2 separate regions of the Homo sapiens genome follow, and region 2 is linked to region 1. The links come from fine-mapping of genetic effects on gene expression. Tissue or cell type: whole blood. Region 1 holds a variant in brackets; the other region holds the start of a gene. All regions are shown on one strand. Distances are from middle to middle.

What was found. PIP is the estimated chance that this variant, and not a neighbour inherited with it, causes the effect.
Region 2: it holds the start of CDC42EP1, and the variant in region 1 is fine-mapped to the expression of CDC42EP1 in whole blood (INTERVAL, PIP 0.98).

The regions. Positions count from the first base shown.
Region 1 is chr22:37,472,361-37,480,102 of GRCh38, reverse strand. It overlaps MFNG (MFNG O-fucosylpeptide 3-beta-N-acetylglucosaminyltransferase), which reads left to right. Exons shown (of 8, transcript NM_002405.4): 4 at 605-758; 5 at 3,122-3,207; 6 at 5,426-5,591; 7 at 7,575-7,660. Among named protein-coding and RNA genes, the nearest start is that of MFNG, 10 kb to the left of the region's middle. The variant C/T (reference allele first, on the strand shown) is at 3,879.
Region 2 is chr22:37,556,657-37,564,398 of GRCh38, reverse strand. It overlaps CDC42EP1 (CDC42 effector protein 1), which reads right to left and starts at 3,919. Exons shown (of 3, transcript NM_152243.3): 1 at 3,811-3,919. RefSeq lists enhancers at 1-433, 1,462-2,068, 2,371-2,600, 2,069-2,676, 2,677-3,283 and 1 more.

The sequences.
Region 1 (7,742 bases):
CTAGCAGGCAGTGGGCAGATGGCTGGGAAGTCCAGCTGGGTTCCAGTCCTGACATTCAGGATTGGGTATGTGACCTTGGGAAAATGGCTTTTTTTTTTGAGACAGAGTATCGTTCTTCTTGCCCAGGCTGGAGTGCAAATGGTGCAGTCTCGGCTCATTGCAACCTCCGCTCCTGGATTCAAGCGATTCTCCTGCCTCAGCCTCCCAAGTAGCTGGGATGACAGATGCCCACCATCATGCCTGGCTAACTTTTGTAATTTTAGTAGAGACGGGGTTTCACCATGTTGGCCAGGCTGGTCTCGAACTCCTGACCTCAGGTGATTCACCTGCCTCGGCCTCCTAAAGTGCTGGGCTTACAGGCGTGAGCCACCACACCTGGCCAGGGCGAGTGTCTTAACCTCTCAGTCTTGGTCCTCAACTGTGAAGTGGGTACCCTCCTCATGAGCTTACACAATATGCAACTTGGCACAAAACAGATGCCTTAAATGTCAGCCTCTCCCACCCCTACCCCCATTCCGTCACTGTTGACCGACTGTGGGGGTGCTTGGGGACCCTGGCTTGGAACCCCCCCAACAAGTTCACTGTCCCCGTTTCATCCCTACAGGTGGTTCTGCCATGTGGACGATGACAACTATGTGAACCCAAGGGCGCTGCTGCAGCTTCTGAGAGCCTTCCCGCTGGCCCGCGACGTCTATGTGGGAAGGCCCAGCCTGAACCGGCCCATCCATGCCTCAGAGCCACAGCCCCACAACCGCACGGTGGGTCCCTCTCCTCCTCCTTTGCCCCTTGGCCCGCTGATCCCAAGGGCCGGGCCGGTCCTGGGGGTGGGGGTGTGCTAGAGAGGTGAGAGGGGTTCTGGGTTTCAGGTTTGGCCCTATGTGGGTTTGGGCTGGTAGCTTCCCCTCTTCAACCCTCAGTCTCTTCCTCTGTGAAATGGGGAGACTGAGATCATGCAGTCGTGGCACAGACACAGTACATAGTGAGGCCTCCATCCCCCAGGAACCACGGCTTGTCCTGGTCACTCAGGGAGCATCCAGGTGAGCTGAGGCTGTGTGACACCACAGCAGGGCTCCCAGTCACCTGGTGTCCCCATGTAGGTGTGCAGGTTGTTAAAATGCTGGAATGGCTGGGGGCAGTGGCTCATGCCTGTAATCCCAGCACTTTGGGAGGCTGAGGTGGGTGGGTGACCTGAGGTCAAGAGTTCGAGACCAGCCTGACCAATATGGTGAAACCCCGTCTCTACTAAAAATACAAAAATTAGCTGGGCATGGTGGCGGGCACCTGTAGTCCCAGCTACTCGGGAGGCTGAGAGAGGAGAATCGCTTGAACCCAGGAGGCGGAGGTTGCAGTGAGCTGAGATTGTGCCACTGCACTCCAGCCTGGGCGGCAGAGCGAGACTCCGTCCCTCCGTCAAAAAAAAAAAAAAAAATTGCTGAATACTGTGGGGCTGGGTGATTGCTGCCACCTGAGCCCCAGAACCCTTCCCCACCTTCCCCTCCTGGGGCACCCTCTCCCTCCAGACACCTCCACTAGCCTGTGACTGAAGAGTCGACACCTGGCAAAACAGGGGGCTCTGTACCCGCCTCAGTTCCTGACCTGGATGGACACTGATTTGGGTTGCCAGATTCATTAAACAAATAAATGAAAAACCACTACATCCAGTTAAACTTGACTTTCTCATAAATAATGAGGAAATTTTTAGTATAAGTATGTCCCAAATATTGCATGGTTCTCTCCCTGTCCCCAGGACCCCCTGGGCATCAGGTGTTAGAGTGGTCCTGGCCCTAGGGCTCCCTTGGCTCCAGGAAGAAGGCAGATCGGGAGGTCCCTCTCTAGAGGCAGTGCCTGGTGCAGGAGCTGGGCACACAGCGGGGCTCAACCTCCCTTCCCAGGTCCCCATCTGCTTCATTAGGAAAACCAAGAGCAGAAAACACAGAGCCTTAATTATCAGTAGCTAATCAGCCTCTGAGCCTTAATTAAATTCTTCTGGGCCCTAGGGCTCTGTGTATGAGTGATTCCAGGGGAGCCAGGGGGTCCCCCAGGCTCTCACACCACTTCACTGCTGGCGACTCACCTCTGCCTAAGCAGTTTGCCTCTGGGGTGGAGAACTGCACGCTGGAGCCTGACTCCCTGGGTTTACACGGCAGCCCTGCCACCTCCTGGCTTTGTGACCTTGACTGAGGTCACCTCACCTCTCTGTGCCTCAGTTTCCTAATCTGTGAAATGGGTGATAACAGCCCCTACTCAAAGAGTGGTCGTGAACACAGAAGAAAGAATGAAATGAGGTCATCTCTCCAAGTCCTTGGAATGAGACCTGGCACGAAGTCAACACTAGAAAGTGTTAGTGATCTGAGGCCGGGCGCGGTGGCTCATATCTGTAATCCCAGCACTTTGGGAGGCCGAGGCAGGTGAATCACCTGAGGTCAGGAGTTTGAGACCAGCCTGGCCAACAAATAGTTAAACCCTGTCTCTACTAAAAAATACAAAAATTAGTTGGGCGTGGTGGCGCACGTCTGTAGTTCCAGCTATTTGGGAAGCTGAGGCTGGAGAATCGCTTGAACCTGGGAGGCGGAGGTTGCAGTGAGCAGAGATGGTGCCACTGCACTTGAGCCTGGGCAACAGAGCAAGACTCTGTCTCTTAAAAAAAAAAAAGTGTTAGTGATTTGTATTGGACACAGCCTGACCTTTGTTTCCCAGCCACATCTTTCCTATGCACACTCAGGCCCCGTCAACCTAGGCCCACCTCTGTGGCCCAGGAGAGCAGGTGCCATGTTCGGCAGCCCCTCCCAAGCCACATGGAGTGAGGTAGAGACCTTTCTCAGGGGAAAGGGGCATGGTGGCTGGGTGGGTAAAACAACACCTGTCCCCTTTAACTGGAATTCAGCTGGACTTGAGTCTGATCAGTGACCTCACCACTCATAATTAACTATGTGACTTCGGGCCTCTGTTTTCTTATCTATAGAATGGGTGCAATAATGCCAGGTTGTAGCAAGACTCTAGTGAGATTCAAAATAAAGGGCTTTTGAGCCATGCTGGTTGGGGGTGAAGGGTGGCCTGGCTGTCCCTTTTCCCCACAACTGCCACCAGGCTCACTCTGCCCCTTGGCCTTCCTCTCTCTCAGAGGCTGGTACAGTTCTGGTTTGCCACTGGGGGTGCTGGCTTCTGCATCAATCGCAAACTGGCTTTGAAGATGGCTCCGTGGGCCAGGTAAGCAGAGACCCAGGGGTGGGCAGGAAGGCGGGGAGGGGGTGGCAGCTGGGGTACAGGAGGGGCCTTTGCAGCAGGAAGGGCTTTGAGAGTGAGCTCAGGAGAAGCTGCTCCTCATTTGCGTGTGTCACAGAGCGGCAGTTGGTGGTGAACAAGCCACCTGCCACCTGCCCTCAGGGGCTGCACGGCTGAGCGCATGACGTGCCACTCACAGGCAAGTCATGTCATCTCCAAGAGCCCCAGTCCCCCCGTCGGCACATGGACCTGATAATGCAGTGGCCAATGGTGTAGTAAGGGTTAAATGAGAAAATGTCTGGGCTGGCCCTGGTAGGTGCTATTTACCGCCCTTTTCTGACTGGTCAATGCCGTAGGGGAGGTGAAGGCCAAATCTAAGGGTCTTCAGAGGAGGGAGAAGGGCCTTCTGGGTGAGGGAAGAAGGGAAGGCTTCCAGGAAGAGGTGGTATTTGAGCTGGGACAGTCCACTATACACTGGGCCATCTAAGGGAGATGATATTACTCCTAATAGCACAGTGGGTGTACATCCTGTGATATTATTCATAATATCATCTAAGGGAGATGATATTACTCCTAATATTATGAGGGGATCTCAGGGGTAGTGGAGGCCGCAGTGTGGGTGGGGGTGGGACACAGGTGTTCTAGAAGTGGCGAGG[C/T]CTGGCTTCTGGAGGTCTTTCCGGGCTATTATTATTATTAACAGCACCATCAGCAGCCACTCCCTTGTATTGAGGACTGACTCTGAGCCAGCTCTGTGCTCCATCAAGAGGATCACAACACCTGGGGGAGAAGGTGGCATTAGTCTTGTTTCTAGATCTCAGGCAACTGAGGCACTGAGATTAAGCCAGTCTGAGGTCAGCCAGGTTCAAGGTCACTCAGCTGCTGGGTTTGGCTCCAAGGTCTGCAAGCCTTGCTACTACCCAAGCCTGCCCTGCCTTGCCCTGGCTGGGAGGGGCGCCCCAGGCAATTCATACTGGACAAGAGCGGGCTCATTGTCCTGGGGCATGTCCACAGAACTGTGTGTGTACACATGACCAGGGTCATCCGTGTGCCTGGGGTGCCCCCACCCAGGCTTCTGCCCACCTCTAAATTACCTTTGTGTGAATTAGAAAAAGCCCTCTCCCTCCAACTCCTGCAGGTGCAGCTTGAGGGCATGCAGGCTGGGGAGGGGAGTGCAGGCTGGGGAGGGGAGTGCAGGCTGGGGAGGGGAGTACAGGCTGGATTTCCACACCCACTTGCCCCTTGGACAAGCATCCAGGGCAGCGGCATTAATGGGGTATACGCGGCCAGTTGAAGTCCATGCCTGGGACTCTGTTCCTGTCTCCCCTCAGCACTGGCTGACTCCAGCCCATCCTGCAAGACTCTGTTTAGGTGGCTCATGCCTGTAATCCCAGCACTTTGGGAGGCTGAGGTGGGTGACTCACTTGAGGTTAGGAGTTCAAGACCAGCCTGGCCAACGTGGTGAAACTCTGTCTCTACTAAAAATACAAAGATTAGCCGGGCATGGCAGCGGGTGCCTGTAGTCCCAGCTATTCAGGAGGCTGAGACAGGAGAATTGCTTAAACCCAGGAGGCGGAGATTGCAGTGAGCCGAGATTGCACCACTGCACTCCAGCCTGGGCAATGAAGGGAGACTCTGTCTCAAAAACAAACAAACAAACAAACAAACAAATGAACACACAAAAAAGCTGCCACCTCCTCTGGAAAGCCCGCCTGATTCTCCCTGTACCCCCAGGCAGCATGCTTCCCTCTGACTTAGCACCACTCTTTGAAAGACCTGCTCCCTGCTCTGTCTCCCGCCAGAATAGGGGCTGCTGTTGGGGGCAGGAAGCGTTTCTTTCTCATCTCTGTATCCTCAGCCCTAGCATGGTATCTGGCACCAGCAATGAATAAATGAGTGAATGAATGAATGACAAGACAGAGAGAGAAGGAAAGGCTACATTTATAAAGGGCATCACCTTCCCATTCCCTGTTTAATCCTCACGACAGCTCCACGAAGACACGGCCATTAGCATCCCCATTTCACAGAACAGGAGACTGAGGCTGAGGCTCCCCAAGGTTCCTGACTTGCTCAAGGTCATACAGTATGCAGGAGGCAGGTGCTCTGTTCTGCCAGCTTGTCCCAGTGGAGGGCCTTCATGGGGTGGCCCACGGCTCTGGGTGTGGAGGGCCTGGGCCAGCGTCTGCAGTCTGGCTCTGTCCCTCAGTGGCTCCCGTTTCATGGACACATCTGCTCTCATCCGGCTGCCTGATGACTGCACCATGGGCTATATCATTGAGTGCAAGCTGGGCGGCCGCCTGCAGCCCAGCCCCCTCTTTCACTCCCACCTGGAGACCCTGCAGCTGCTGAGGACTGCACAGCTCCCAGAACAGGTGAGCTGGCCTTGGGGGCAGGTGGCAAATGGGAAGGGGAACCAAAGGAACATGGGGTCCCCCCAACCCTCCCTCCTGGCGTTTGAAAGAAACCTGGAACTCCAGATTATGGGTCTTGGGTATTCCCTATTGATGGGGAAACTGAGGCCTAGGGTGGCAAAGGACACCCTAAGGGTACACAGGGACTCAACCCCTTCACCTCTAACCCTCAAGGATTAGCATTTGTGAAGCTGAAATTCTTTGATCTGGTCCTCAAATGCCGGGAAGGACCTGAACAAATGAGATGAGGTTGTCTTCAGGTTCCCACCACCCTGCTCTCCACCCATACCTCTACTCAGTCTTCCATCCTCCCCACATTCCTCCCGGGGAGCCCAGCTGGCTCTTCTAATTTTACCTGTTAGGAGCCCCTTCCTTCATCAAAACTCCCCTATCCATTGCTCAGTGCTGTTCCTGCCAACCCTGAGGTTACCGGGATGGAATGGGTCTTTGGGGGGACGCTCAGCATTATGTTAGGCTGGGGGAGGAGGGGGACCCCATCCCACCACCTGGCAGGTGATACAGGTCCAACTGGCTCTGCCTCGGAGAGGCTGCCCTCTGACACTGTAGATGGTCCTGGCTGGGAGCGTCCCCGGGATCTCCTGCCCAACAGTGTGACAGAAACTCAACGTGAACTGGCTAACCTGAAAAGGAAATTGTTGGCTCACATAACTGAGAAGCTCTCCCCCAAGTTGGCCCATCCTCAGGTGGGCTCAGCCCTCATGTTGGCAAGATGGCAGCCCCAGCTTTCCCCCCACTATCGGAGGAGAGCGCCTCCTTCCTTCAGATCCCCGGGCTGGCGTTCATTGATTTGATGACTGGGCTTGGGTCAGGTGACCCATCTCCTACCAGCACCTGGAGTTAGTGTTGATTGGCCAGGCCTGGAACTGGGGTGTGAGGTTGGTCCCATTAGGATGGCAGGGCCTGAAGCCAGGAAAGAGAGGCAGATTTGAGGCAGCCCAAACCAGGGCATCCTAATGGTTAGGGTATCCTGAGTACCCACAATGCCAGGCACCACACTGGGGTCCTTCCCTTCTTTTTTTTTTTGAGATAGAGTCTCGCTCTGTTGCCCAGGTTGGAGTACAATGGCACGATTTTGGCTCTCTGCAACCTCCACCTCCCGGGTTCAAGTGATTCTCCTGCCTCAGCCTCCTGAGTAGCTGGGACTACAGGCACCCACCACCATGCCTGGCTATTTTTAGTAGAGACAGGGTTTCACCATGTTGGCCAGGCTGGTCTCGAACTCCTGACCTCAAGTAATCCACCTGCCTCAGCCTTCCAAAGTGCTGGGATTACAGGCATGAGCCACCGCACCCAGCCACCCTTCTTTAACTCTCTGGTTCCTCACAGTAGTCACATGAGGTCAGTACTAACATTATCCCCATTCTATAGATGGGGAAAATGAGACCCAGCGAGCTGAACTGACCACGGCACACAGCTAATATGGGGCAGAGGGGCACTGGAACCCTAGCTGGGTGGTCCCTATGCCCACAGTCTTTAACCACTGTGCTCTACAGCCTCTGAGCTGAAATCATGATCCATGTCGTCACTGCCTGGTGGAGTAGGGGCTCCGGGTGAAGAGGGATGTGCCAAGGCCCTCCAGTGAGTCTCAGAAAACCTCCATTCTAGTCCAGGCTTGCAGCTTACTGGAAAGCTGCCTTTTCCTGTTGAGCCTCAGTTTCCAAATCTGTAGATGGGGGTATTGTTCCAGCTTCTCAGGGGAGCTCAACTCTTGAGGGAGCAAATGGGATTAAGGGCATGGCAGTGCTCTTCCAGCTGTGAAGTGCCTTGGGGCGTGGGGTGGGCTCCCACCACCAGCGGGGAATTTCAGGTTCCCGGGCAGCTTTCCCTGCAGCTTAAAACCCCTCCTCCACCTGTGCCAGGATGCTGCCCCCTTGTGGGGATCCCCAGTGTGATGCCCCAACACTCTTCTATCTCCCTGCCCAGGTCACCCTCAGCTACGGTGTCTTTGAGGGGAAACTCAACGTCATTAAGCTACAGGGCCCCTTCTCCCCGGAGGAGGACCCCTCCAGGTGGGTCTGGGGGCTGGAACCTTGGATGGGAGGAGTGGGGGCTGAGTCCAGGCATCCAAACATGGGGGAGCTGGGAGGGAGT
Region 2 (7,742 bases), 84 kb before region 1:
AGAAGGCCCGCAGGAAAAGACTTTATCACAGTTTGTCAAACTGACGTAGGAGCCTTGCTGTCAGGGAGCAAGCTTTGGAAAAAGCTCAGCTGGTGCCAAAAGCTATTTCTTGTGCATCTCTCCTTCCTGATTCCCCACCCCCACCATACACACACACACATCCTCCCCTGCTCCAGCTTCTCTAAGCATCTCTTGTTCTGACCCCTTTCCTTCTAGTGTCATACAAAGTCCAGGCTAGAGCGCACCTGTGATCCTATGCTTTTCCTGTGGCCCACTGAGGGCAAAGCTGGCTAGAGGTCAGATCCACAGAGCTAGTTGAGACTTGAACTCAGAGCCTCTGACTCACATAAGCCCTTGACTGGCTTGTGGAGCCCAGTCTCGCCTCCCGAGATCGGCAATGCACTTGGAGGGTGGGGAGGCCGCCTGGATTTTCCTGCCTTTCTCCCTTGGGCATCTAGCTTGGGCTCTGCACTTAACAAGTGCCAAATCAATGCCAGCTGAATCACAGATCTCCATGATAACCTGCATGCCAAAACATCACCCTGGCCCCTTCTGAGAGTGGGAGGGCAGGCTGGGCTCTGTGTCCTCACAATGTGACCTTGGGCAAGTCACTTACCTACACAGACCTGGGACCTCAGCTGATAAAAGTCAATAATGATCCTTAAGAACACCTATGTCTGCGGCTCAGCCTTCTTCCTTTTTTAAAACCATTGCTGCCACCTCCAAGCATAGAAATCTCAATACTGCCCTTCTAATGTTATTTGAAATTCAAAATAGGTTAAATAACAAGATAAGAACAAAGAAGCCAATAGGACAAAGCTTGCTTTGTTTTCTGACTACATTCTCTTCCCTTCCCACCATCTGATCCTCCCCCAACCCTAACTCCTCCCCCTCGTGGGGGGGAACTTCTGAATCATCTTCTTCCCTCCCTGGCACCCCCGGCACCGAGAAGTCCTCGTGGAATGTTTGCTGAAGTTCTGAAGCGATCCACAGTTGGCCAACCATTACATGATGTCATCTGATTCTCCAACAACCCTGCAAAGCCGCAGCGTGGCCTATTTGACAGGCAGCACTGAGGTTCGGAGGGAAGGGAGACCTGTCCAAGGTTAAGTGACAGGTTCATGGCAGGGCCAAGTTTCCCTGCTCAGCAGGGATTAAGGATGCATCTCTGGGGGAAGGAATGGGAGCGGGAAGGGTGTTCCTCTGTACAATGTCCTGTAGAAGGGTCTGCCATGTGGCCTTACCCACTTGCTCCCACCCCAGCTCCCTGACTTTTTTTTTTTTCTTTTTTGAGGCAGGGTCTCACTCTGTCACCCAGGCTGAGTGCAGTGGCTCCATCACAGCTAACTGCAGCCTCGAACTCCCAGGCTCAAGCGATCCTCCCACCTCAGCCTCCTGAGTAGCTGGGACTACAGGCACATACCACCATGCTCAGCTAAGTTTTTCCACTTTTTGTAAGGACAGGGTCTCACTCCATTGCCCAGGTTGGTCTCAAATTCCTGAACTCAAGCCATCCTGCTGCCTCAGCCTCCCAAAGTGCTGGGATTACAAGTGTGAACCACCACACCTGGCCTCCCTGACTTCTTGAGGCAGCACCTCATCTCCCAGCAAAAGGGGCTCCTCCCCCCTGAACCCCCATGGTCACTTTTGACTTGGGGGACCAGCTTCCTCCCCAATCTTGCGATGATCCCATCTTTCAAATGTTTCTGGGCACCCCCCCAATAGTACCCACCCCTCACACTACCCTGCCTACTGCGGTCGAGAGACTCTGCAGCGCTGTGGAGCTGAGGGCAGGGTATTGGGACCCGGTCTTCCCATGTGGAAAACGGAACAGCACACCAGGCAGTTCCCCTCCCAGGGGAGTTGCAAGGGTAGAAAATGTAATGAAACCCTCAGATACTGGAGCAGGGCAGCCATGGGTTCAAATCTGACACCTTTACACTAACATCTCTCATTCCAGGGACCCCGGTGGCAGCCACGTGGCACTTGCTGCCAACCACAGGGCACTGCTGGCCATCAGGTGTGCCTCACCTGGCACTGGAGTAAGCAGGGCTCCAAGTGTCCTGGTGCCAGGCTCACCTCCCCTCACCTGCTCAGGAACACCGCCCGTTAGTGTTCAGAACACCCCTTTCACAGATGGAAAAAACGAAGCTCAGAAAGGAGACATTTACCCTCAGTCACAGACCAACATTGCTGGTAAATGCCCCAGGGTGGGGGTGAAGACGATGGGGAATGGGGAAGACGATTTGGAGGGCTTGGATGCCCAGTGCTGAGCCCGGTGTGGGGTGCAGGTGCAGGCCTGGGAAGACAGGAGACCCAGCTCTGCAGATTCACTGCCTGTGACCTGGGCAAGGAGGTCACCACACAGCCTCAGTGTCCTTGGAGTCCTTATATTTACCCTATAGAGGATAGTCAGGGCCTGGGCACATGGCCTGAGCTCACTCAATGGTGGGAATGACGCAAGAACAAGTTTTGGAGCCGGGATCGGGCCAACAGGGGTCGCTGTGGAGGCACATGTGGTCGCGGGGAGGCCAAGGGCGGGTCTGAAGGAGAGCGGGGGCGGCTGCACCCTGGCATTCACCTGGGGGTCACCCGCAGGCCGCAGTGCTGGCCAGGGGCCCACGTCTCATCCTGGAGGCCACTGCTCGGGTGCACACAGCCCACTTCCTGCGGGCATCCAGCTGGGTGACGCCCCCCCCCACCGCTGGACAGCGGGTCCCTGTCATGGTTACGGCAGCTCCCCCAAACCTGCTCTGGTCCCTGGAATAAGGGGTTAAACCGGTCGGCTGACTTCTCCTGCTCCTCAAAGTCCAGACGCTTCAAGGTGGAGAGACGGGGAAACTGAGGCCAGAACGGGGTAGCTAGTTGTTCGCAGTCGCGCTAGGGGACCCGGTCCTCCGTATTCCAAGGGGGGCACCGTGGGCCATTAGGGAGCGACGGGGAAAGTGGAAAGGAGACGCGCTTCGTGCCCACCGCCCCGAGTTAGAGCCGAACCAGCCCGGGACCGAGCGAGACGGAGCGGCTGCGGGCCGCGTCTCGGGTCCCCGCGCCACGTTTAGTGCCGCTGCGGCCTCCCGGCCAGTCCCCCCTACTCTCTAAGCCTCAGTTTCCCGGTCTAGGAAAAGGGCTTCGAATGTTGCGGGTCTGGCACTGCTGGGGCAAAGGCAGAACAATCTGGAGGGCGGCCGGGATTGGAAGTCCGGGAAAGACTTCGGCCATCCAACATTCCCTGGGGGGACGGGGCTCAGGACGCGGAGGGTCGCTCCGCGGGGGAAGGGGACGACCGGCTGTCTTGGCCGGAGGGGAACCGGACGGGATGACCTCATCCGCGGCTCCAGCCTGGAATGCGGCGGTCGGGGAGGGGGGCAGGGTGCCTGTCCATCTCCCCGGGCCCCCCACCCCCCACTTCCCGCTCTCCGCGTGGGCCTCGGCGGAGGGGAGACATTCCGCCGCGTCGCCCGCTGCCCGCCCCGGCCCTTCCTTCCCCCGCGCAGGAAGGCGCGGAGACAGCCCCCGCTCTGCCCCTCGGCTCGCCCCCTCCTCGCGCATTTTGGCCGCTCAGCCGTGTCCGATCCTCTGCCCCCTCCACCAGCCTGGAACGGGACACGAAGCCCGAAAGCTCGGAGTTTCCTCGCGCGGCTCCGCGGCCGCGCCCGGCCTTCCTGTGGGCACCCGGGGGCGCCTCTCCCGGGCGGGTCCCGTCCCCGTTCCGGCCCCGGGAGCCTAGTAGGGTGCAGAGTCCCCGCGGGCGCCGGGACCCGCCGGCCTCCACGGCCTCCGCCCCGAGGACCCGCGCGCCCGGGCTGTTACCTGGCTCCGCGAGCCCCGGGGGCGCGGGACGAGGGCGGACTCGTCGTCTGCAGCGGCGGCGGCCGCGCGTCCCGGCTGGCAGCCCGGGAGAGTCGCTGGGCCGGTCTGCGCCGCCCTGGCCGCGGGCTCCGCGGGCTGGATCCGGGGGCGGGGGCGGGGTGTGGGCGCTCCCGCCTCCCGCCCGTCTCCTCCCGCCCGCGGGCGGGGCCCGGCCCCCTCCCCGGCCCCCTCCCCGGCACCGTCCTCGCGGCCGCCGAGAGCTGGCAGGGACGCGGCTGGGGGGCCAGGCCAGGCCTCTGCTCGCCACCCCGGACAAGGCCAGCCGGGGAACGTGCGGGCTGCCCCGGGGAGGCGACTCCGGTCCCCGGCCGCCAACCCCTCTTCCACCGGTTCCCCTCGTGGCCTTGCTTGGGGCGTCCAGGCCTGATGAACTCTCCTCCCTCCTGGGCCCTCCAGCCGCGCCCTGCGGGAGTTCGGGGAACCGGGAAGCTCGATCTGAGGCCTTGAATGCCTGGGCCTTTAAACCTTGATGTTTACAGGCATGACATGCCCACTCCTTTGCTCCCCATTCTCATTCCCTTCCATCCGGTACAGGCCCCGCGGTGCCCAGGAGGAAGACAGCCATACTGGGGCGACTGGTAGAGTGGGGTAGAGTGGCCGTCAAGACCGGGACCCTGGAGCCGGACAGCCTGGGCTCCTGTCCTGCCTCAGTCACTACTTACCTTTCTCTGCCTCAGTTTCCTGATCTGAAAGTGGGATAGATAATAGCAGCATCAGATGTTGTGTGAAGTGTTTCCTGCTCCAAGAGCACCTAGGAGGCTTGCTCGGCAGGTAAATGAAGTCGCATCTCAGAGACTTTACAGACCCTCCCCCCACCCCGCCCACCTCCATGGAGGGCAGGGAATCAGCCATACCCGGGACCCTGTGCCATCCTCAAGGAGGGGAGATAGATCTCTGGCCCCTGCCTCCCGTTGTTGTGCCCTCCTTTGACTACTCCCATCTGACTATAGAGTCCTCGGGCTGTCAGGGCACAGAGAGGTCCCTAATACTTCCTGCAGGGCCTGGGGGCTCAGGAAATCTTCCTAGAGGAGATGATACCTGAGTTAAGTCTCTCTCTCTCTCTTTTTTTTTTTTTTTTTTTTTTTTTTTTTTTTTTTTTTTTTTTTGAGACGGAGTCTCTCTCTGTTGCTCAGGCTGGAGTGCCATGGCATGATCTCAGCTCACTGCAGCTTCCACCTCCCGGGTTCAAGCGATTCTCCCTCCTAAGCCTCCGGACTAGCTGGGATTACAGGCACCCACCCACGCCCGGCTAATTTTTGTATTTTTTAGTAGAGAGGGGGCTTCACCATGTTGGCCAGGCTGGTCTTGAACTCCTTACCTCAGGTGATCCGCCTGCCTTGGCCTCCTCAAGTGCTAGGATTATGGGTGTGAGCCACTGCATGGTTGTGAGTTAAGTCTTAAAGGACGTGTAGGCAGAGGGAAGGGCAGTGGAAATGCACAGTGCACAGCTGGCAAGGGACAGCACAGCAAAGGCTGGGAGTGGAGGACCCTGCAGCGGAGGCAAACCCGGCTGAAGGAGACTGGCTGAGCGCTGTTGTGGCCGGGGATGAGGAGCTGTATTTACCCGCAGGTGGAGGAGACAAGGTCTTTACTGTTCACCCAGGGGCTAGGCCTCTTCCACTGGCTCCCTGAATCCCCATGCTGGCCACCAAGGGAAGGAGCTATTTCTGCAGCTGGACAAATGAGGAAACAGAGGCACAAAGCATTCTAGCATTTGCTCAAGTGGCACAGCAGTAGGAACTCTTTCCCTGGGGGCCGGCCCAGGAGTATTTTGTCCCATGGAGAACTGGAACAGCATCAGGACAGTGAGCCAGCAGGCAGCACTGGCAGGTGTACATTTAGAAGACTGACTGTTGCCCGGCGTGGTTGCTCACGCCTGTAATCCCAGCACTTTGGGAGGCTGAGGTGGGCAGATTACTTGAGGCTGGGAGTTTGAGACCAGCCTGACCAATATGGTAAAACTCCGTCTCAACTAAAAATACAAAAATTAGCCAGGCGTGGTGGCGGGTGCCTGTAATCCCAGCTACTCGGGAGGCTGAGGCAGGGAGAATTGCTTGAACCTGGGAAGCGGAGGTTGCAGTGAGCTGAGATCGCACCACGGCACTCCAGCCTGGTCAACAGAGCGAGACTCCATCTTAAAAAATAAAAATAAAAAAGTGCCGGGCGCGGTGGCTCACACTTGTAATCCCAGCACTTTGGGAGGCCGAGGCGAGCAGATCACTTGAGGTCAGGAGTTCGTGACCAGCTTGGCCAACATGGTGAAATCCTGTCTCTACTAAAAATACCAAAAATTAGCCGGGCATAGTGGTGGGCGCCTGTAATCCCAGCTATTCAGGAGGCAGAGGCAGGAGAATTGCTTGAATCTGGGAGACGGAGGTTACAGTGAGCTGAGATCGTGCTACTGCACTCCAGCCTGGGCGACAGAGCGAGACCCCATCTCAAAAAAACAAAAAACAAAATAGAAATCTGACTGTGAGTGAAGAATGGACTGGAAGGACAGTGATGGAAACAAAGAACTAGTGCTACTGTGGTTATTACTATTAATAGCATCAGTAGTAACCAGCACTTATTGAGCACCTGATGCATACCAGGTCCTGTAGCTCATTAACATGCATTATGACATTTAATTCTTGTGAGAGCCCCATAGGGAAAGTCCTGCCATGGTGTCCCTTTTGCAGATAAGTGAAGTGATTTGCGTAAAGCTCCCTACTTTGGCAGGATGGCCATACTTTCCAGTTTGCCTAGGACAGCCCAGATTACACATACTGTTCCAGTGTAATTATTAATAGCACTTCCTTTCATTCTCAAAGGTGACCTGGTTAGACAATCAATTACACGTCACTCTAGTCAGAGGATCCCTAGAGCGGCTGGTAAAGGAGGCAGTCTGGTGCAATGTCAAAGGCCCTGAGCTCAAATCCTGGCCCAGTGGCTGACCGTGGGCAAAGCACTTGGCCCATTTGAGCCTCAAGTTTCTCATCTCTGAAATGGGTATAATAGCAGTGTGGGTATTTACTAGTTGGGGTGTTGTGAGCCCCAGGCAGATGACTGAGCAAGCAGTCCTGATGGAAGTGGTTACAACCTGCCCCATGCTTGCTCCATCTTCTTCACCCGCGGGCAGGGAGGGCAGGCAGGAAAGAACAAGAGGTTGAGAACCTCCCTACTATATATGCCACACGCTTTGTCTTCTCCAGCTCATTGACAGGCAACCTGTGAATCAGGAATTCTTGCCCCCTTTTACATCTGGGTAAGCTGAGGCAGAGAGGAGCCCTCTCCCTCCTTTGCAGCCTGCCTCCAGATAGAAACCTATCTCCATGTAGGCTGTGCCCTTGTTCCTGGCTCCACTCCTGATTTAAGGATCTGACTCAGTTTTTCCCTCTGGAAAACGGGAGAAAGGGAGAAGTTTCAATATCCCCAAGAAGGATCCAGGGTTGGGCAGTCTCCCTTTATCATGCTTTTCTCCTCCCCCAATTTCCTGCGGTCCCCTTCCTTCCCTTTGAGAGGCTGTGCCCAGGAGTGCAGGGGTTAACCTTGGCAGGGCTGTAATCATCGTGCAGAATGCAGAACAAATGCCTCCCAGCTGGGGACGGGGAGCTGCTAGGTGAACCAACCGCCCAGAGCTCAGGATCCCCTACCTCCCTGTCTTGAAGGAACCAGGCTCCTCAGGCTATAGTCCCAGGGCTCAGCTGCCCCCTCCACTCAGCCCAGCAGATTGGGTTGGCCAAGGCAAGGGGCCTAAGGGAAGGAGGCAGGTCCTGGGCAGGGAGCAGTCTATGGAGCCAGGGAGGAGGGGGCAGGGCAGAGCTACGGAGAAGTATTTCCTCCTTGGGGACCCAGGAATGCCAGTGGCTGCTTCCAGGTTCCAGGGAGGTTTG